3 linked regions of the Homo sapiens genome follow. The protein of the gene in region 3 interacts with the protein of the main gene of each other region in a biochemical or structural test. Each region holds a gene or a part of one and is shown on either strand. Other genes may lie near its edges.

Evidence for each region. Proteins that work in one complex are often made in the same cells at the same time.
Region 1: of the proteins of PRKCG (region 3) and CASR, one has a biochemical effect on the other in vitro, tested with the Homo sapiens proteins (one study listed by BioGRID).
Region 2: of the proteins of PRKCG (region 3) and ARHGEF7, one has a biochemical effect on the other in vitro, tested with the Homo sapiens proteins (one study listed by BioGRID).

The regions. Positions count from the first base shown.
Region 1 is NC_000003.12:122,179,800-122,186,693, reverse strand, and holds the start of CASR (extracellular calcium-sensing receptor isoform 2 precursor), read right to left. Parts: upstream 3,027-6,894; 5' UTR 2,882-3,026; intron 2,368-2,881; exon of another isoform or gene 2,165-2,367; intron 1-2,164. UniProt on the Homo sapiens protein: G-protein-coupled receptor that senses changes in the extracellular concentration of calcium ions and plays a key role in maintaining calcium homeostasis.
Region 2 is NC_000013.11:111,300,310-111,306,258, forward strand, and holds the end of ARHGEF7 (rho guanine nucleotide exchange factor 7), read left to right. Parts: intron 1-438; coding exon 439-538; intron 539-1,168; coding exon 1,169-1,223; intron 1,224-2,681; coding exon 2,682-2,804; 3' UTR 2,805-5,423; downstream 5,424-5,949. UniProt on the Homo sapiens protein: Acts as a RAC1 guanine nucleotide exchange factor (GEF) and can induce membrane ruffling. Functions in cell migration, attachment and cell spreading. Promotes targeting of RAC1 to focal adhesions. May function as a positive regulator of apoptosis.
Region 3 is NC_000019.10:53,878,066-53,885,213, forward strand, and holds the start of PRKCG (protein kinase C gamma type), read left to right. Parts: upstream 1-4,131; 5' UTR 4,132-4,429; coding exon 4,430-4,599; intron 4,600-5,097; coding exon 5,098-5,129; intron 5,130-6,095; coding exon 6,096-6,178; intron 6,179-7,148. UniProt on the Homo sapiens protein: Calcium-activated, phospholipid- and diacylglycerol (DAG)-dependent serine/threonine-protein kinase that plays diverse roles in neuronal cells and eye tissues, such as regulation of the neuronal receptors GRIA4/GLUR4 and GRIN1/NMDAR1, modulation of receptors and neuronal functions related to sensitivity to opiates, pain and alcohol, mediation of synaptic function and cell survival after ischemia, and inhibition of gap junction activity after oxidative stress.

The sequences.
Region 1 (6,894 bases), on a different chromosome or scaffold from region 3:
CACCCTCAAAGAACTTCGTTTCTTTCCTTCAGACAGTTTATCTTAGTTTGTAATAACATATAGTCAATATTTATTTTCCTAACAGCTGCCACCCCAAAGCATCTGTAAGCTCCAGGAGAGCAGGGACCTCACCTGGTTTTATATACCAGTTAGTTCCCAGTGACTGGCACATAGCCAGGCACTCTATAAACATTTTGAATGATGAATGATGAATGATTTTTTTACCTCTTACTTACTTATTGCCGTGTTATCTTAAGAATTATATGCAACTCCTCACCAGTCTCAAACTTGTAGTTAACTTCTTCCTCTTCATTATACCCCTACCCTATCACAAGGATCAGTCATTATTTTCTCACCCTCTCCTCCCCACTCTCTTCCACCAAAAAGTCTTAGAAGTGGCAGCTTCTAATCAGCCTGAACTTTCTGACATGGTTGGGATCCAGTTCAAGGTTATGCAATATGAAAAGATAAACAAAATAAAGGAAAAATGTGGAGACTGGAGTACCTATTAGGTGATTTTAAACAATGGACACAGCTCCTAAAGAACCTGCTAATTCAGTAAAAAAGAAAATTTTTAACTAATTTAATTTCAACCACTCTGTTTTATCATAGAGACAAAAACTGGTTGATTTGCTGATTTTTTTTTTTCACTTACTATGTTTTGGTCTAGCATAGAAGTCTTGGAACAGAGCTGACTGTGCTGTATTGGCAGGAAGTAACTCGCATGTGTGGTCTCTTAGAAATTATATGGAGACTGTTCCCAAATGACAGGGCTCTGTGCTTGAGGAGTCTTCTCTACTCAAGGGTCTTGGCCTGCTTCTTCCTTCCTACTTCCCCTCCAACTTCTCCTACATCTTCCCCTCCCCTTTTGTCCACCACAAAGCTTTGTCCCTCAGCCCCTTCATTGGACACCTGGGAGGCAGGTATAAAGCACCCGCTCTCCCAGGTTCCTACAGAGGAAAAATCCTAGGCATGCCAGTTAGGGAATCCTGGAGTGGAGATGGGAAAAGCAACAGCAAGGTGTGACTGATGAAGTTCTGTTTTAAGGAATAGGAACTACTGTGGTGTTAAGTTCTGGAAATCCAGAGCATTTCAGAAAACAGCCTGCATTATTTCTCTCAGTAACAGACTACCTAAACTGCACTTGGAAGATCCAGTTTAAGGGGAAAGATAAGTGTGTTTAGAACTTGACATGGACTCTTCCCCAATGTGCCTTTTCTTCAAATCTCTGGGATAATTGAAGCAAGTAAACGAAATGTCTTCTCGTTAGTAGGCTCCCTACCCTGAGGACCACCTTGTGAAAAATATTTGAGGACAAGAGAGGCGTTGCAAGGAGGAACACTGGAGATTAAGGGATGTGGGCAGTGGTGGTGACATCATTTTCTGGATAAAGAATCAAAAGACGGCGACAGAACACGTAGAGTGGGAAAGGCTATGGGTGTAGAAAGGAGACAGCAATAGACACACATGCTAGTGCACGCATTGCCTGTAGAAGATAAATGTTTGTATTATTTGACTTAAAAAAAGAAACATATGCATGTTATCTATTGAAAGCTATAATGTTAAAATAATGATAAGACTCCATCAGTCTGGTATGCCTTTTTTTTTTCTCCCCAGGAAATACACATGGAGGCTGGTGCTCAGGCCCCGGGAACTGACAATCTAATTTGATGCCACTGAAGCAAAGTTCCCAAGACAGCTGGTAGCTTGGACCAGGAATCCTGTGGGGGCACTGACGGCCCCTGGGGCCAGAGCTGACTCTGTGGCCCTCCCCTCCATATTCATACACTCTGTAAAAGCTACCTGTCCCCTTGTTAACACGTGGCAAGCGAGTCCTTTCTGACTATATCACAGGCAGAAACAAGGCAGAGGCACAAGAAACTACCAACAGCAGGCGTTTTGGTGCGCGCTCCCGTTCATTCGCGTGGGCGACCCGCTGCCCCTTCTAGGGGCACTGAACAATCCAGTTCTGAGCCGGGGAAAGCCTTGATCCTGTAATCTGGTCCCTACTTTCCCCCACGTTCACGCCCAATGCTCCCAGGCTGGAGCTGCTCCGGCGTGTGCCCCTCGTTCGGCCCGGAGCCCTTGGCCCCCAGACCCCGCCACGGCCCCTCCCCCACCAGGGGCGCTTTCCTCCCGCCCTCCTTGGGTTCCCCGGTCCTACCTGCGCCGCGGCCAGGGCTCCCTCGCACAGAGGCAGCTCCGGCCCCTCGGCCGTGGGTCTCCACGAGGATGAGCTCTGGTCTGATCTCAGGACTGCGCGCAGCCCCGCTCCCTATGCCAAGGTCACGGTCTTGGAGAGGCGCGTCTGGCTCGCTGCGCTCCCGGCGCCCGCCTTCGGGTCCGGCCACAGCAGCCCCCGCAGACCCTCTGGGCGGCCGCTGCGGCCCCGGCCCCGGCCCCGGAGCTCCGCCCCTCTCCTGCTCCCCGCCCGCTTGCCCCCTCGGGGTCCCCAACTGCCGAGCCCAGCTCCCCTCGTAGCCCACTCGCGGGCTGCCTTCTAACCCCTACCCCAGTTAGTCCCGGTTCCTTCACCGTCTCCTTAGCCCGCAGAGAGCTTAGCTGACTCTTCAGGGTCGCTGAGGGCGCGTCTTCGGTTCCCCGAGGGCCACAGGCCGGCTCGGGTCCCCAGCAGACGGCGAGCCCCGCGCTTAGGTCCTCTCCTGCCCTCTCCCGTGCCGAGCCAGGGGTTCCCGGCTCTCAAATCCTGTTCCCGCTGTCCTCTTCCCTGACCCCTACTCCTTGGCGATGGAAAGAAGCTTAGGGCGCTTACGACGCCACCAACGTTCTCTGTGCCGAGGGTGGCACAATTTTTTTTTTTCTGATATAAGGCCAGAGATTCACAGTAAAATAAATACAAATCGCGTGCCCAAACTCTTACTCATTCTGCAAGACTCAGGTCAAGCGTTGCCTGTGCCGCAAGACCTCGGTGCTGGCAAACAGCTCCCTCCTTCCACTCTCCTGCGCGAAAGGGCGTGCGGTCCTTCCTGGCTGCAGCCAGGTGCCTGTTGCACTTGGTCTACTCTACCCGACTCCACAGCGCGCTGCTTGGAGGCCCGGACCTGGCCTTGCTTATCCTTGTCCCTAGCCCCTGGCACGGTGCCTGCCACCCATCACAGCACTAGAATATTTTATGAATAAGTGGAAAATTAATTTCTTTTGTAGAAAACCAGTTTTTTTGTATGTGTTTGTTTGTTTTTGGCTTTTTACTCTCAAATAAAGCATACTCCTTTGGGTGGGCAATTTGCTAGGCTCTATAAAGAAACACCAAAAATATTATCCCCTTTAATGCAGTATTCCACCCTTGCGGAAATTTCCAGAACAAAATAATATTCGTGCGGAGATTTTTTTTTTAGCAGGATCATTTGTTACAGAAAATAATTTTAAAAACCACAAAAAGCAAACAGAGCCAAACTGTCAACAGTAGGAAATTTGTTGAATAAATTAGGGTGACTTAATGGGACATTATACAACCATTAAAATGATAAACATCAAGACAGAAGTGCTTCAAATTCTTTTTAGAATAAGGAGGGAGTATGTATTTATTTATAAAGCAAAAAAAAAATAGGAAAACATGAAGTAACATGATAAAATGTTTGCAAAATACTGTTAAGCAAAAAGCAGAAAATTGGGTCGTTTACCATGTTTAAGAACTTCAAATAAAAATGCAGATTTCTTCTCTGCAAAATGGCGATAACATCTACCTCAGGGGGTCCTTGGAGTGTTAAATGAAATAGTCAAGGAAAGTGCCCTGTATAGAATGGATACTCAACAAAGTTTCCATTTCTTTTCTTCAATGGAACACAGACTCAAATCCAGCATGTCAAACACATCCTCATTATGGCCAAGTTCTGCCCATTTGGCTTCCTTTCCCTCAAATACAGGGTAGGAGAAGGAGCTGAGCAAATGCTAAAGCACCAGTGAAGGGGGCAAAATCTGGTTAATAGGAATAAATGTGAAGTCCTCCCTCAGGCCGAAACACCCAGCAATGTAAGTAATGGAGGATGTGGCTCAGTAGTGGTGCCTATCAAAATACCTTAGATTTTATTTTAGTTGGCTACAAGCACAGCTTTGTGAACACCCAAAGGCTGAACGAGTTCAGTTCAAAACCCGAATGAGGCTGCAATCTTAGGCTGAACTGATGCTCTTCACTGGTCGGATTACACCTGGGCATAATGTCCAAATTTGGGCACTATCTTTAAGAAAGTATTACTCTGAAGATCTATTATTGCTTCCATTTTAAAGACGAAGAAACTGATGCATACAGTTTCAGGTATTTAGGGTTGGGTGGCTAGGAGTTGGCAGAGCCAAGAGCTGAACCTGATCAGCTTGACTTACAGTCCTGGTGCTTGATCACTTTACCAGTGTGTCCCAGTGTGTACATCTTCCAGTAGAGATTGGAAGCATGGTATTGGGTGGTACACAGACAATACAATTAGATAACAGTGGATCACAAGGTGAAAAAAGATATGCCCTTTTTACTTCTTTTGTTCCTATGGATTATGTCAAGGAAGGAGTATCATTTTTGTAGTATTTGTCTTTGCACCCCTCTGTAACACTTGCTAATCTCCTGTTTTAACAAAGACAGAGGTTGCCTCTCACTCAGAACCTTTGCTAGGCAACAGCTCCTAAGTAGAATTTAATATCATTGTTTTCTCTTCCATCTGTTATTATTCCTTATGCAGTTAAGTTCCAATTGACATAGTTTTCCACTGACAAAGTGATGTGGTTTCCATTTAAGGTAAATTTTCTTATATGAGAAAAATGAGCAACTTGAAAGAAAGATCTAAAAGAACTAATAGGACCAGTGATGTTTAAATTTTGGAAATACAAGCCCATACTCTATTATGACCAGTGGATAGAAGGAATGACAGAAAGGTTTCAGTCCACAATGAATCAGGGCTGCCTGGGAAGATGCTGAAGGACAGCCTTGGGAGCTCAAACGCTGTGGCTAGAAGCTTTAAAGTTCCTGCCAACCAGGAGAATCTGGGATTCTTGACAGCAGGGCTTCTCAGGTATCTAACCTCTAGAAACACAGATTTTGGAGCAAGTTACATTCACTCCTTTTGGACAGATCCAAAAAAAGGGTTCCAAGTAAGCTCAGAACAATAGCAGCACCTCTGTGACCATGGTATAATTAACAGAGCACTAGCAGATTCTCTCTAAGGTAACTTTTGAAAGAGACAACATTTGGGAGGTTTACACTTCAATCATTTACTCCCTTACACCTTCTTTTGGTATACCCTCTATTCCTAACATCCCCGAGGGCCAAGATGGTGGGGCTGTTCCTCCTTCCTTTCATGTTCCAGCATTTCCCATCCCCAAATTCCATATCGTGTGGCCTCTGTTTCCCCTAAGGCAGCTCCCCTTGCTATTTTTTTAACCCTTTGGACTAGTATTAAAATGGATGTGTGGGGAAAAAAGGGTTTATAGGGTCCCCAGCAGTTAAAAAGTATCTTTGGTATAGGAAATTTATTTTGAAACCATAAAGTCTGAAAATCCATAATGTACAAAACCATAATCTGATTGCCTTATGGTTCAAGAATATTTGGTGAGTAGACATCACCTGGGCCCCTGACTGCTAAGAACAGAAAGCCACTTGGGAACATATAGGGCAGATAAGCTGTAGGGAAAAGACCATTCAGACAGTCCAGTGAAAGGACTAAATGCTTCCACTGGAGGAGCTACATCAGGGGAAGCTTGTTCAATTGGATTAGGAAATTCTTTACTGAGACACCTCTGATGCCTCTCTTTTCCTCACTTACTATCTCCAACCCATCTACAAGTCCTGATGGATTGACTTTCAAAATACATCCAGACTCAACCTCTTTTTCCTACCTCCACCACTACCAGCCCTATCCAAGCTGGCATCATCTTTCTCTTAGAAAACCTCCTATCTGGTTTTCCTGCACTGACCTTGCCTTCCTACAGGCTGTTCTTCCCAAAGCAACTGCAATGACACATTTAAAAATAAAATTGGATTCGGTCATTTCCCTGCTCAAAACCATGTCTGTAATGGATTCCTGTCTCAGAGTGAAATTCAGTAAATTTCATGGCCCATTAAGGCCATCATCATGTGGGTCCTGGCTGTGTCTCTGATCTCTCTACCAGCTTCCTTGTCTTCACACATACTGGTTTCCTTGCTGGTCTTTGGATGTGCCCAGCATACCCTGTGTTGGACCTTTGCATTTCCTTCTCTCAGTCTGGAGCTCTCTTCTCCCTCTTTTTTTTTTTTTTTTTGGAGACTGAGTCTTGTTCTGTCACCCAGGCTGGAGTGCAGTGACACAATCTCGGCTAACTGCAACCTCTGACTCCCAGGTTCAAGCGATTCTCCTGCCTCAGCCTCCTGAGTAGCTGGGATTACAGGTGCATGCCACTATGCCTGGTTAATTTTTGTATTTTTAGTAGAGATGGGGTTTCACCATGTTGGTCAGGCTTGTCTCGAACTCCTAACCTTGTGATCCCTCCCTTCTTTTGCTCTCTATTCAGAGAGGTATTCCTTTGGCTTTCCTATCTCATAAATGACATAGCCCCTCTTTCATCTTACTCCATCACTGTTTCCTTACCCTGCGTTTTTGGGGTGTTGTAAACTTTACTGATGGCTTGAGAACAATAAAATTGGTGGTGGAGATGGAGTCACAGAGTGGTTAGAGCAAATTGTAGCATCGAAAACAATTTTATTTAATTTTTAAATTTTGTTTTGTTATTTTTTTTTAGATGGAGTCTCACTCTGTGGCCCAGGCTGGAGTGCAGTGGCACAATCTTGGCTCACTGCAACCTCCACCTCCTGGGTTCAAGCTATTATCCTGCCTCAGCCTCCTGAGTAACTGGGATTACAGGCACGCACCACCATGCCCGGCTATTTTTTTGTATTTCTTTTTTTGAGATGGAGTC
Region 2 (5,949 bases), on a different chromosome or scaffold from region 3:
GTAGAGTAAAATGTTTTTATTGCCAGATCTTTGATGTATAAACACTCACTGTATATGTTCTGATTGGTCTCATATGTCTTTGCTGAAACTCTTGGAATAATGGCTCAAAATGGGATGAATATCCAGAGCAGTACAGTCACAACCTTTAACTTCCTCCCTGTTGAAAATGCTGGGGTTTCAACAATCCGTAATTCCGATTTGAAAAGGGCTACAGTTTCCTTCCCTCTCTGGCTTTGGTCATGAGGAGGCCTGGGCTCGGTAGACAGAGGTGAAGAGAACTGGTAAAAGATGCCCTCCTCTAGCTTGCCTGGATGAACGTTTTTAAATGCATAATTGCTAGAACTTAATATTTAAGTGACATGGTATAGTCAAGTTGTTTTTCTTCATTCTGCCATGGTATTCGCCTGAGGTTTATTTATTATTTTTTCATGATCCTAGGTTCACGCAAAGAATCTGCTCCACAAGTTTTGCTTCCAGAAGAAGAGAAAATTATAGTGGAAGAAACTAAAAGTAATGGTCAGACAGTGATAGAAGAAAAGTAAGATGTCTTCCGGTATTCTAAAGCAGATGTTTGACCTCTGCGGTGGGGTAGTAGAGTCCAGACAACTCCCTGAGGGCGGGGGTATGGCTTCAGAAGCTTCACTTTTTTTTTTTTTGAGACGGAGTGTCACTCTTGTCACCCAGGCTGGAGTGCAATGGTGCGATCTCAGCTCACTGCAACCTCCACCTTCCGGGTTCAAGCGGTTCTCCTGCCTCAGCCTCCCGAGTAGCTGGGATTACAGGCCTGTGCCACCACGCCTGGCTAATTTTTGTATTTTTAGTAGAAACGAGTTTTCACCCTGTTGGCCAGGCTGGTCTCAAACTCCTGACCTCAGGTGATCTGCCCGCCTCGGCCTCCCAAAATGCTGGGATTACAGGTGTGAGCCACTGTGCCTGGCCAGAGCTTCACTTTTAAAATGTCTTCATAGGCTGAAGTTGCCCTTGACTAGGCTTGAACCTGCCATGCACAGAGGTTGGCAGTTTTTAGTTGTGAATGTAGACAGTACATGGGTAAGGCAGAGCAGCTCCGTGTCCTCCTCTCAGCATCGTAGTGTCTCCTGGTAAGTTTTCGTGTGTCCTCTCCATGCCTCACCTTGTTCATGTGTGTGTGTTCTGTTTCCTGTTTCAGGAGTCTTGTGGATACCGTATATGCATTAAAGGATGAAGTTCAAGAATTAAGACAGGTACGTCATAATCCATCTTTAAATCTTTTTTTTCTTTTCAAATGGGAGAAAAGAAGAAAATTACATTAAAAATAAGCTGGCTGGGTACGGTGGCTCACACCTATAATCCCAGCACTTTAGAAGGCCGAGGTGGACAGATCACCTGAGGTCAGGAGTTCAAGACCAACCTCACCAACATGGCAAAAACCCATCTCTACTGAAAATACGAAAATTAGCTGGGCATAGCGGCAGGTGCCTGTAACCCAGCTACTTGGGAGGCTGAGGCAGGAGAATTGCTTGAACCTAGGAGGCGGAGGTTGCTGTGAGCCGAGATTGTGCCACTGCACTCCAGTCTGAGCCACAGAGCAAGACTCCGTCTCAAATAAAAATAAAAAGCTGATTGTCCATAAGCAAAAAACTAAAAGGAGGTCATGTCTTTGAGAAGTCCAGCAGATAAAATAATTGGTTGTCTCTAAAGTGACTTGTTTAAACTCTTTTTTTTTTCTTAACAATACTGATTTTGATGTCATAAAACATCGCAAATTCTGTTGGAAGAATAATTTAAAATATCGAAAGTTCTGTCTGGTGACAAATCCTGCGAGGCGCCCCTGAGATTAGCCTCTGCCACTGCATGGTCCTTGGCTCCCGAAGCCAGGTTAGCGAGCCAGAAGTGGCGACTAACCAAGGGTGTTCTGGGTATTGCACGGAATGTGAGTATGAGCAGCTTTGGTCCTCTGCCCAGCTAGGCGAGGGAAGGTTGGGGTGTTCATTGCACGGAATGTGAGTACGAGCGGCTTTGGTCCTCTGCCCAGCTAGGTGAGGGAAGGTTGGGGTGTTCTTTTGGCCGAGGAACAGCCTGAGAAGAGTTGTGGTCTGGGATAGAGAGCTGAGAGCAGGTTGCTGTGTGGAACTGGACATGTGCTGTCATTCTAAGCAGTGTCCGCAGGTCTTCCAGGTACACCTTTGCCTGGCTGGCAGGCTTCCATGTTCACGCTTTGCCCCTACCGGCAGCAGGCATCTGTTTGTGCATGCCTCCTACGTCCGAGACATGCCTGGGTTCAGCTGCACAGAGCAGGTGCTCGCCCACTTGCTCCTGCACCTGTCAGTGGCTGTTACTTCCAGTCCTTTCTGTAACTCTGGAAGGTGGTTATAAATGGACAAAAAGGCTGGATAGGAGCTGTCTCGTCCGCAGTTTCCAGCTATTTTCTTACGGTATGTTCTATAGAGATTCATTCATGGACTTAATAAGAGCCATTAGGACCATTTCCATCCCGGGAACAGCAGCACAGTCAGGAGCACCGCTGCCACCCTGTCCAGGTGTTTGACCTTCGTGGATCCCCACGACCTCAGAGCCCATAGGCAGCTCACGTGGGATTTCATGAATCGAGGCCTTAGCTCCTCAAGGATACACATTTGGGGAAAGGAAGCCCTACGCGATGCCAAAGATAGTGAACACCCTGTGGTCTGCTTAATTTACAGGACAACAAAAAGATGAAGAAATCTCTAGAGGAAGAACAGAGAGCCCGCAAAGACCTGGAGAAGCTGGTGAGGAAAGTCCTGAAGAACATGAATGATCCTGCCTGGGATGAGACCAATCTATAAGGGATGTCCTCAGTTCTTTCTGTTGAAGACCAGTTCTGAGGTGAAGCTGGGCACCCCTGACCCAAGTCGGGGTGCACTCAGGACCACAGGGCAGGGCTGGGTGGGGCGCCACCTTGCTCTCTGTATATAGAAAAGCTGGAGCTTATTCTGCGAATGGAGACGATCAAACCATGACTGATGAATCCAGACAGGAGGGATTGACTCTGAGGACCTGAGCTACATCAATCCACTCTGTGAACATCTCAGTTACCTCATTCTGCAATAAGTTCAGTGACTGACTAAAAGTCTTGTTTTTCCAGACTTTGAATTGAATATATAAATATTATATATACATGTTTCTTGTAAATATCCCATTTTGAATGCATACCTGTGGTGGTTCTGTCCGGGCTAATCCCCATGCTAGAATGTCCTTTCCAGCTACGTGAATAAGAAGTCCCATGCCCGCATCCACCGGAAGCAGAAGCCTGGTGGATGCCTGGTTCGTTCCGCAGCACCAGGGCCTCCACCGTGCTGTGGCAGCACCCCCCATGTCGGTATTTCTAAATAACCTTATTTATACCTGCAGAGATACACTTCAGTCCCATTCAGAAGTCTTCTCTTAAAGCAGCATTACAGTCCCAGACCTGCGGGTTTCTGAGGGCAACTTGCTGGCTGACAGACTCAGTCTTGACCTCAAGGAAGGCCCATACGGCACTGCCGCATCCACCTAGAGGTGTTTGCTCTTGTCCGCTGTCTGAGTACTGTGATTCTCAGATGAGTTTGCTGCGTTTTGGGAGGACACAGACGGTTCTGTATAGGCTAGTTCAGTAACAACAAAATACACTGTTTTGTCTTCCCTCAAAGAGAGATCTTACTAGAACCTGTAAATAGAATGTATTATTTATTATAAGTCACTGCAGCTGATGAAAACAGATGGAGGCCATGCTGCAGGCTGATACTGATGGGTGGAGTTTTGTCATCAGGCCAGCCTCATCCCGAGGTCTCCTCCACCATTGGCCGTAGCCAGCAGGCTTCAGTGCTCACCGAAAGTAAAATCCCCTCCTTCAGCAAGAATAAAGCAATATACACCTTAGGTTCCACTAAGTAACATAGGCATAAGCAGGGAACGTTTCCCCCACTGTGTTCCAGTGCAGAGGAGACGAAGCCTGTCCTCACCGCGGCTCGCTGGGCCCAGGCTGGCTCTGGAAAGCCTGTGCGGTCCTGGGCAGGAAGCCCGGCCCGTGGAGCAGGTTTTCGTTCTGCTTCAGCAATAAATAAGGGTGACCACAGGGACTTTGCTTTTGGTTTCCTTTCCTGTGAAAAGGTTGGTTTTAAAGTGAGATACACTTTTCCGTAGAACAAGTGTTCTATCTTTAAAAACCCAAATTGCAGCACCGTGGATTACTGGTCTCAGAACAACTCATTGCGCATCAGATTTGACTCTCTGATTTTCTGTCTATTGGCCAAATTGCCCTTTAACTGCACCTGAATCCTTTGTGTACTGATGCCTTTGAGCTGGGCACCTTGGGAGAGTGTTGTGTTGCTGTTTACGGTTCTTCCTTGCCCTTGCTAATTACAGTCTCTGGTGCCCAGCAAGCCCCTTTGGCTTCCTTCCGTGACTGGTCACGTTGTCTGCCTGGGCTCAGCGTGGACCTGCCCCATGCTGCAGAACCTGGCCTCACCTGGACTTTTCACTAGAATTGCCAGCTTCCTCAACTTAGCAGATCATTCACTCATGCGGGCACAAGCAAAGATCAACACTTTCTTTTTTGGTAAGCTTGAGTTTTACAAGTTATTTTTTGGTGATGCGTAAGACATTGCAGTGGGAAACCATTCAACTTGAGTTTATTGGAGTTTGCTGTTGTAGCAGGTTTTAACTCAGGAACAACTCTTGTCTGATCTCTCCGCCCCTCTGCCGGGAGGCGACATTAACTGTCCTCTCGGAGCCGGTAGCGTTGCTGTCCGAGTCCCCAGGACGGATCTCCTGCAGACCTGCCTTAATGCTCAGATCGAAGTATTTCACAAGAATACTTGTGTTTTTAACAGCCCTTCCCCTGGACGGTGCGGCCATGAGGGCCTCATGTTACGGCATTGCCTTTTCTTTCTGTGGATCCAGTATCTTCCTCGGCTTTTTAGGGAGCAGGAAAAATGCGTCTGAGAGCAACTCTTTTTAAAAACCTGCCCTGTTGTATATAACTGTGTCTGTTTCACCGTGTGACCTCCCAAGGGGGTGGGAACTTGATATAAACGTTTAAAGGGGCCACGATTTGCCCGAGGGTTACTCCTTTGCTCTCACCTTGTATGGATGAGGAGATGAAGCCATTTCTTATCCTGTAGATGTGAAGCACTTTCAGTTTTCAGCGATGTTGGAATGTAGCATCAGAAGCTCGTTCCTTCACACTCAGTGGCGTCTGTGCTTGTCCACATGCGCTGGGCGTCTGGGACCTTGAATGCCTGCCCTGGTTGTGTGGACTCCTTAATGCCAATCATTTCTTCACTTCTCTGGGACACCCAGGGCGCCTGTTGACAAGTGTGGAGAAACTCCTAATTTAAATGTCACAGACAATGTCCTAGTGTTGACTACTACAATGTTGATGCTACACTGTTGTAATTATTAAACTGATTATTTTTCTTATGTCACAGAATGTGTCGCTTCGTCTTCTTTGATGTGTTTTCTGTGTGCTTGTTAGCTTTACAGTTTCTTTGGGCTGTTTTAGATTTGAAAATTCTGTCTGTCTTTGATACTGAAGATAACATGTTTCCTTTAAAGTCTAGAGTTTGAGAAAATTTGAAGATTTTTTTTTAAAAGACAAGGAAAGAACACTGGAAGTCTTAGGAACAAAAGCTGAAGTAACAGGTCACGCTGGTAGGCACAGCCCCCAGGTCCTCACCCATGCCTGGAGGAATGACCTGCATTCTGGAAGGCGCTCAGGACACCGTTTTGTGGGATCAAGTAAGCGAAACTTTCTTGAAGATATCTGTGGGGTCCCTTTTAGGAGCTGTCATAAGACAAAAGGAAATTGCTCGTGTGTGTCCCTGTGTGGCGGTGGTGCAAACGAGGGTGTCTTCCGGAAGGGTGGCCGGGAGGACCAAGCGGGGTCTCCTGTCCATGGTCCGTGTACCTGGCTCAGGTGTGTCTACAGCTCCGCTGCATGTCATTTCAGCC
Region 3 (7,148 bases):
CCTAGCTTACATTAGTAATGCAGCAAAGAGTAATATTAAAAGCTAATGATTAATAATGTTTATAATAATGATTGATAATTGTCCATGATCATCTCTACATCTAATTTGTATTATGACTATTCTTATTCTAACTATTTTGTTTATTATACTGAAACAGTTTGTGCCTTCAGTCTCTTGCCTGGGCACCTAGGTAATCCTCCGCCTACATATTTCCCGGACCTCAGGAGAATCACAAATACACAAATAAATATAAGCCCTACAAAATTCCCAGATCAGGCCCGGCGGGTGGCTCACGTCTGTAATCCCAGCACTTTGGGAGGCTGAGGCGGGTGGATCACGAGGTTAGGAGATCGAGACCATCCTGGCCAACATGGTGAAACCCCGTCTTTACTAAAAATACAAAAATTAGCCGGGCGTGGTGGAGGGCACCTGTAGTTCCAGCTACTCATGAGGCTGAGGCAGGAGAATCGCTTGAACCTGGGAGGCGGAGGTTGTAGTGAGCCGAGATCGCGCCACACTGCACTCCAGCCTGGGAGACAGAGCGGGACTCCGTCTGAAAAAAAAAAAAAAAAAAAAAAAAAAAAAATATATATATATATATATATATATATATATATATATATATATTCCATGATCAGCCGGCGCGGAGGCTCACGCCTGTAGTCCCAACACTGGGAGGACAAGGCGGGAGGATCGCTTAAGCCCAGGAGTTCAAGACCAGCCTGGGCAACACAGCAAGACCTCGTCTCTATTTAAAAAAAAGTTTTAAAGAAAATTCGATGATCACAGAACCCGCTATCTGCATCTACATCCGCAAAAGCAATTGGGGAGAGATACCGCAAGGGAGGGAAGGGTTCCCCTGGAAGGGGAGAAGGAAAGGCCAGCTGGGGCACACACTGTCGTTGGATGAGGAAAGGCCTCCTTTTCATTTCTGCAGCGTCCACTCTTGAGCTCCAACCCACTCCATCGCTGTCTTCTTAAAGGACGCCTCGCCCACCCTTCTCTCCCATCCCATGCCTGAATCCCTTCTGGAAGGCATCCGAAAGAACAGCTATAGAACTCTGGGGTGATACGTTGGTTAACTCGGGAAAGAACTCAAGGACACTGGACTAGAACGTGGTGGGATTCCTAGGTCGGTTTCGGGGCCATCCCCGCCGCCTATCCTTCGCCCTAGGTCACCTGGAGGTGGCTGGAAGGCCAGTGGACTCCACATTTAGGGAGAGTGGTTACAAGAGGACTCGGATTCCCCCACCTTCCCTTCGGCTTTGGGAATCCCAGGAAACCCGCCCCGAACCCCTGAAAAGTCCCAGAGAAGGTAAGCTGGGCGTCCAGAGTCCCTCCCAGGCGCCGCCGCAGCGTCCCGCCCAGCCTCGCGGGGCACGCCGGGAGGCGGAGTTCTCGGTCGTGTCCCGAGAGTGGCTGGTCCGCAGGCTCGGACTACCAGTCCCAGAATGCACTGCGCCCGCAGCCCGGGGCGGGCCGTGGTTGCCCCTGGCAACAGAGAGGGTCTCCCGGGAGCGGGGACTGGGAAGCGCTCCCGAGCCGGGGAGGCGCAGAGCCCGACCAGAGAGAGGCGGGGACGCGGGTAGAGCGACCAAGAGGTGTGGAGGCCGGAAGAGACTGACCGCGCCGGCCCTTGGAGAGACCCCTTTCCTGAGAGGGGGCGCACAGAGAGGATGCCGAAGCCAGCGAGATCTAGAGAGAGGGAGACAGGGATTGAATCACAGAGACACTTAGAGGGAGGGAGAGACCTCAAAGACAGAGAGATTCACAGGGCCAGAGAGACACGTAGAGTGGGTCAGAGAAGAGGACAGAGGACAGAGACATAGAAAAGACAGGAGGGAGAGAGACTGAATCACAGAGACACAGGGAGAGAGGGAGAGACCTCAGAGATGGAGAGAGACTCACAGGGCCAGATAGACACATGGAGTGGGTCAGAGAAGGGGACAGAGAGAGAGACACAGAAAAGGGAAGAGGGAGAGAGACTGAATCACAGAGACACAGAGAGGGAAGTCTCTATCTAGAGACCCTCGACAGAGATTCCTAGAGCCAGAGACAGAGATTCAGAGAGCCAGAGACACAGAGAGATTCATAGAGACATATAGAGAGATTCAGAGAGCCTGAATCACAGAGATTCACAGAGCCAACGAGACAAACAGAGAGATTCATAGAGCCAGAGACACAGATTCGGAGAGTCAGAGAGACATAGAAAGATTCATAGAGCCAGAGACACAGAGATTCAGAGAGTCAGAGAGACATAGAGAGACATTCATAGAGCCAGAGACACAGAGAGATTCATAGACATATAGAGAGATTCAGAGAGCCTGAATCACAGAGATTCACAGAGCCAAAGAGACAAACAGAGAGATTCATAGAGCCAGAGACACAGAGGGATTCGGAGAGTCAGAGAGACATAGAAAGAGATTCATAGAGCCAGAGACACAGAGATTCATAGAGACATAGAGATTCATAGAGCCAGAGACACAGAGATTCAGAGAGTCAGAGAGACATAGAAAGACATTCATAGAGCCAGAGACACAGAGAGATTCAGAGTCAGAGAAACATAGAGATTCATAGAGCCAGAGACACAGAGAGATTCAGAGTCAGAGAGACATAGAGAGACATTCATAGAGCCGGAGACACAGAGAGATTCAGAGTCAGAGAGACATAGATTTATAGAGCCAGAGACACAGATTCAGGGAGTCAGAGAGACATAGAGAGACATTCATAGAGCCGGAGACACAGATTCAGAGTCAGAGAGACATAGACATTCATAGAGCCAGAGACACAGATTCAGAGAGTCAGAGAGATGAATAGATTCAGAGAGCCAGAGACACAGGGAGAGTGAATCACAGACACAGAGGGACGGGGAGATCCCCAGAAACAGAAAGAGATTCATAGAGCCAGAGAGACAAATAGAGATTGGGTCAGAGAGAAAGGGACAGAGACAGAGACAGAGAAGAGAAGAGGGAGAGAGATTGGGTCAGAGAGAAAGGGACAGAGACAGAGAAGAGAAGAGGGAGAGAGAGACTGAGTCATAGACAGGAGAGAGACCCCCCTAGCATCAGAGAGAGAGAGAGAGATCAACAGAGCCAGAGAGGGACAAGTACAGAGAAACAGATGGAACCAGAGAGATATAGGAAGAGACAAACAAAAACAGAGACGGAGTTGCAGAACCGGAGGAAGGGAGAGAGACAGAGACAAAGGCATTTATAAAGACGGGTGGAGGTGAGGAGAGAGAGGGAGAGACAGGGGCAAGCATTTAGAGAGTGACTCCCAGAGAGGAAGACAGAGACGGACTCCCAAAGAGATCAAGTTGCAGAGGGAGGGGGAGACAGAGTCACAGCCTGAGAGAGAATAGAGATTCACAGAGCCAGAGAGACAAAGACAGGGAAAGAAACAAACTCAGGGAGACAGAGGCGGAAGAATTTATCAGACGTAGAGGGAGAGACAGAGGGAGACTGATTCACAGTGAGGCAGACCAAGACCCCGAGAAGAACCACGACACCAAGACCCAGAGATGGCGACAGATACAGATGGAGACACACAGCAGAGGAAATAGAGAAATAGAAAGAAATAGAAACAGCATTTCTCGGAGACAGGGAAAAGAAAACAGATCCACTGAGAGGCAGAAACAGAGACACATCGAGAAAGCTCGCTCCAGGAATAGAGGGAGAGGGACAGAGGTCACAAGAAAGACACACGCAGGCAGAGAGCTACACAAATAATGGAGAGGCCAGGGGAGGAAATAAAGACTCAGCCGGCATCGGAGAAAGTGAGAACCTTAGCGCCCTGCCTGTCCACTGCTGGACCCCTAGCGTGGAGCATAAAGTTTGTTGAAGGAAGGAGAGGGGCAGGGTCAGACACAGGGACCCCAGGGCGCCCACAGGACACACGAGGCACCCTAGTGGGGGAGGAACGCGGGGCAGGATGACAGATTGCAGGGTGGTGGGGGGGAGCCAGGCTCAGAGGATGCCCCTCCCTCCAGCCAGCCCCCGGAGTGGGTGTGTGCACGTGTGGGGGGCGGGGAGGGAGGACATTTGTCCCGTGTCTCCGGGAGGGGAGCGCCTTTAAGCCGAAACCCCGCCCTCTCGGTCGTCCTGGCAACGCCTCCCCCAACCCGGGGCTCCCACATTTCAGCAGGTGCCGGAGCTGGAGCTCCCACCGCCGCCGCCCGTGCCTCCGGCTGCCGGCGCCCCTGCCTTTGGCTCTTCCTCCCCACTCGCCCGCTCCCCCTGGCGGAGCCGGCGCGCCCGGGGTGCCGCTCCCTGCCTGGCGCGCTCCGCACCTGGAGGTGCCTTGCCCCTCTCCTGCCCACCTCGGAATTTCCCTGTGGCTCCTTTGATCCTTCGAGTCTCCAGCTCCTCTCCCTTCCACCTGTTTCCCCCAAGAAAGGCAGGATCCTGGTCCCTGCTACGTTTCTGGGGCCATGGCTGGTCTGGGCCCCGGCGTAGGCGATTCAGAGGGGGGACCCCGGCCCCTGTTTTGCAGAAAGGGGGCCCTGAGGCAGAAGGTGGTCCACGAAGTCAAGAGCCACAAGTTCACCGCTCGCTTCTTCAAGCAGCCCACCTTCTGCAGCCACTGCACCGACTTCATCTGGTGAGGGAAGGGGGCTGGGGGACTGGGGGACGAGGGGACTAGGGGTGCAGACTCCTATCACGCCGACCCCTGTGGAAGGAAGAAGGAGGGGGCTGTAGTCCCGACTCCCAGGTTCTAGGATGGCCAGGGAACGCTGGGAGCTTCGACTCCTGGGTTTCAGTGAGGAGGAGGCTGGTTCCTGGAGTGCTGGGTCCGAGGGAGGAGGAGGCTGGAGGACAGAGGTCCTGGAGTCTTGGGTCTGAGGGAGGAAGGGCCTGGGGGGCTGGGAGCCTGGATTCCTGGGTCTGAAGGAGGAAGAAACTGGGGGCTGAACTCCAGTCTAAGGGAAGAAGGGCTGGGGGCCAAAATTTCTGGGTTCTAGAAAGAGGAGGTGGCCGGGGCTTGGACACCTGGGCCCTGCGGGAGGAGGGTCAGAGAGCGCAGGCCCCCTGTGGCTCGCAGAGGTTGGGGGTCCAGGTACCCCTTTCTGCACTGACCTAGGATCCCTGACTCTTCCAGGGGTATCGGAAAGCAGGGCCTGCAATGTCAAGGTAAGAGCTGGGGACCGGGGCTCCTGGGACCCTCAGGAGGGTGGAGGCTGGGGCCCCACAGCTGAGGCTGCTTGACACACGTGTTCTCTGGTCCCCAGAGAGGCGCGGGGGAGCCCGGGGCGGGGGGTGTGGCAGAGACACAGCCTGTGGTGGGGAGGGAGCTTTGATGGTGGGGCCACCGCGGAGGTGGTGCTGGGGGCCCCTCCCTCGGCCGGCTCCAGGTGGGGACAGATATTTGGAGAATCTGTTGCCATGGGAACATGGAGATTTGGAAAAGGGGAGCTGAAGGGGGGAAGGGGGAGGGGGCTGGAGATGCAAAGTCAGAGCCCCCCCCCACCCCAGGCTGCCGTCGCCATGACAACACCAGCCGTCCTAGGCAGGGGCAGGCCGGGTGGGGTCACCAATGGGCGAGTGGGGGCCGGGCGGGGCCGGCAGTTCTGGGGGGCGGGAGAGGGGGGCGAGTCCTTGAGCACCAGCTGCTACTGCTGAGAACAGAGTGAGTCAGGGTGGGGGGCGGGCCGGCAGCAGCGCCCCCAGACTCACTTCTGCCCAAGTTGCTGCTTCCTGGGCTGCGTCTGAAGATATTTCGGTTTTCGCTCTTTGAATCTGTCTGCCTCTCTCCTGGCTTTCTGATCTCCGTCCGTGGGCCTGTGTCTGTTTGTCAATGGGATCCTATTTTCTTTCTCTCTTTTTCCATCTCCCTTCCCTGAGCTCTGTGCTCTGTGTCTCTCTGTAAGTCTCTGCGTCTCTGTTTCTGACTCTGAGCCCATCTCTTGGGTTTCTGTCTCCTGCTTCTCTCTCTGGCCTCCGATTTTCTCTCTGTTGGACTCTCTGTGTTGAGATCCCTCTCTTTCTGGTTTTCTCAGTGTCCGAGTTCCGCTCTCTCTTTCCAATTTTCTGTCTGCTGGGGTCTCCCGCTGGACTAATCCATGCCTCCGTCTGTGTCTCTATGATTTTCATCTATAGTCTGCAGCTTTGTGGTTCATCGACGATGCCACGAATTTGTGACCTTCGAGTGTCCAGGCGCTGGGAAGGGCCCCCAGACGGACGTGAGTGCTCGGACACCTGGTTCTCCTCCTCGGGCCGTGCCCCCGCCCTCACCCCCTCGGCGTCCGTCCCAATTTCTCCTGCTATTTTTATGGCTGGGAGGGGAGGGGGGCTGGAGAGATAGGGGGAGCTATCTGGCCCAGATTCCTTGCCCTTGGCCTGGAAAGGGGGAATGCGAGGGGGACTGACAGGCTGGGGACACGGGTGGGGCACAGAGAGGAGGCCGGGGTGAGGAGACTGAAGATGGGTGCTGCCGGGGGTGGGCTGTGATCCAGGGGTGAAGGGATTTAAAAATTGAGAGCTGAGGGGCACACGGAGAAAAATATCAGTGCAGGTGCGGAGATGCCAACATAAGACAGAGGGAATCTCAGGGAGAGGAACAGAGACAGAAGAAGACAGAGACCTAGGAGAGACTGAAGCTGAGGCAGAGAGAGAGAGAGATGGAGCAGAGAAAGAACCAGGGAGAAAGAGAGGAATTTGGAGGCACCAAAAGATGGACAGAGAAACTCCAAGAGACGGAGACACAGACACCTGGAGAAAGAGACTAAAATAGAAAATGGTGGATACAGACAACAGCTTAGGAGATGCTGAGAGGAGACCCAGGGAAGTCCCACAGTACACTTGCACACATGTGCGTGCATGTACAGATGCCCCTGTCATCACAGATGTGCAGCACGCAGAGACACACAGCCTCTCCCCACCCCCTCTCTCTCCATCAGAGGCTCACAAGACCAGTCAACCCTGAGTGCCCATTCCCGTTCCCTTTTCTGCTTTATCTCTGAGCCTCAGTTTCCTCCTCTATAAAATGGGGCTGATGATCTAGCATTGACCAACAGAACTGTTTACAGTGACGGAAGCATTCTGTACATGCACTGTCCAATAGGCAGCCACCAGCTCCATGTAGCCAGTGAGCACTTGAAACAGGGCGACTGTGGCTGAGGATTAGAAATTCCATTTCGTGTCATTTGAATT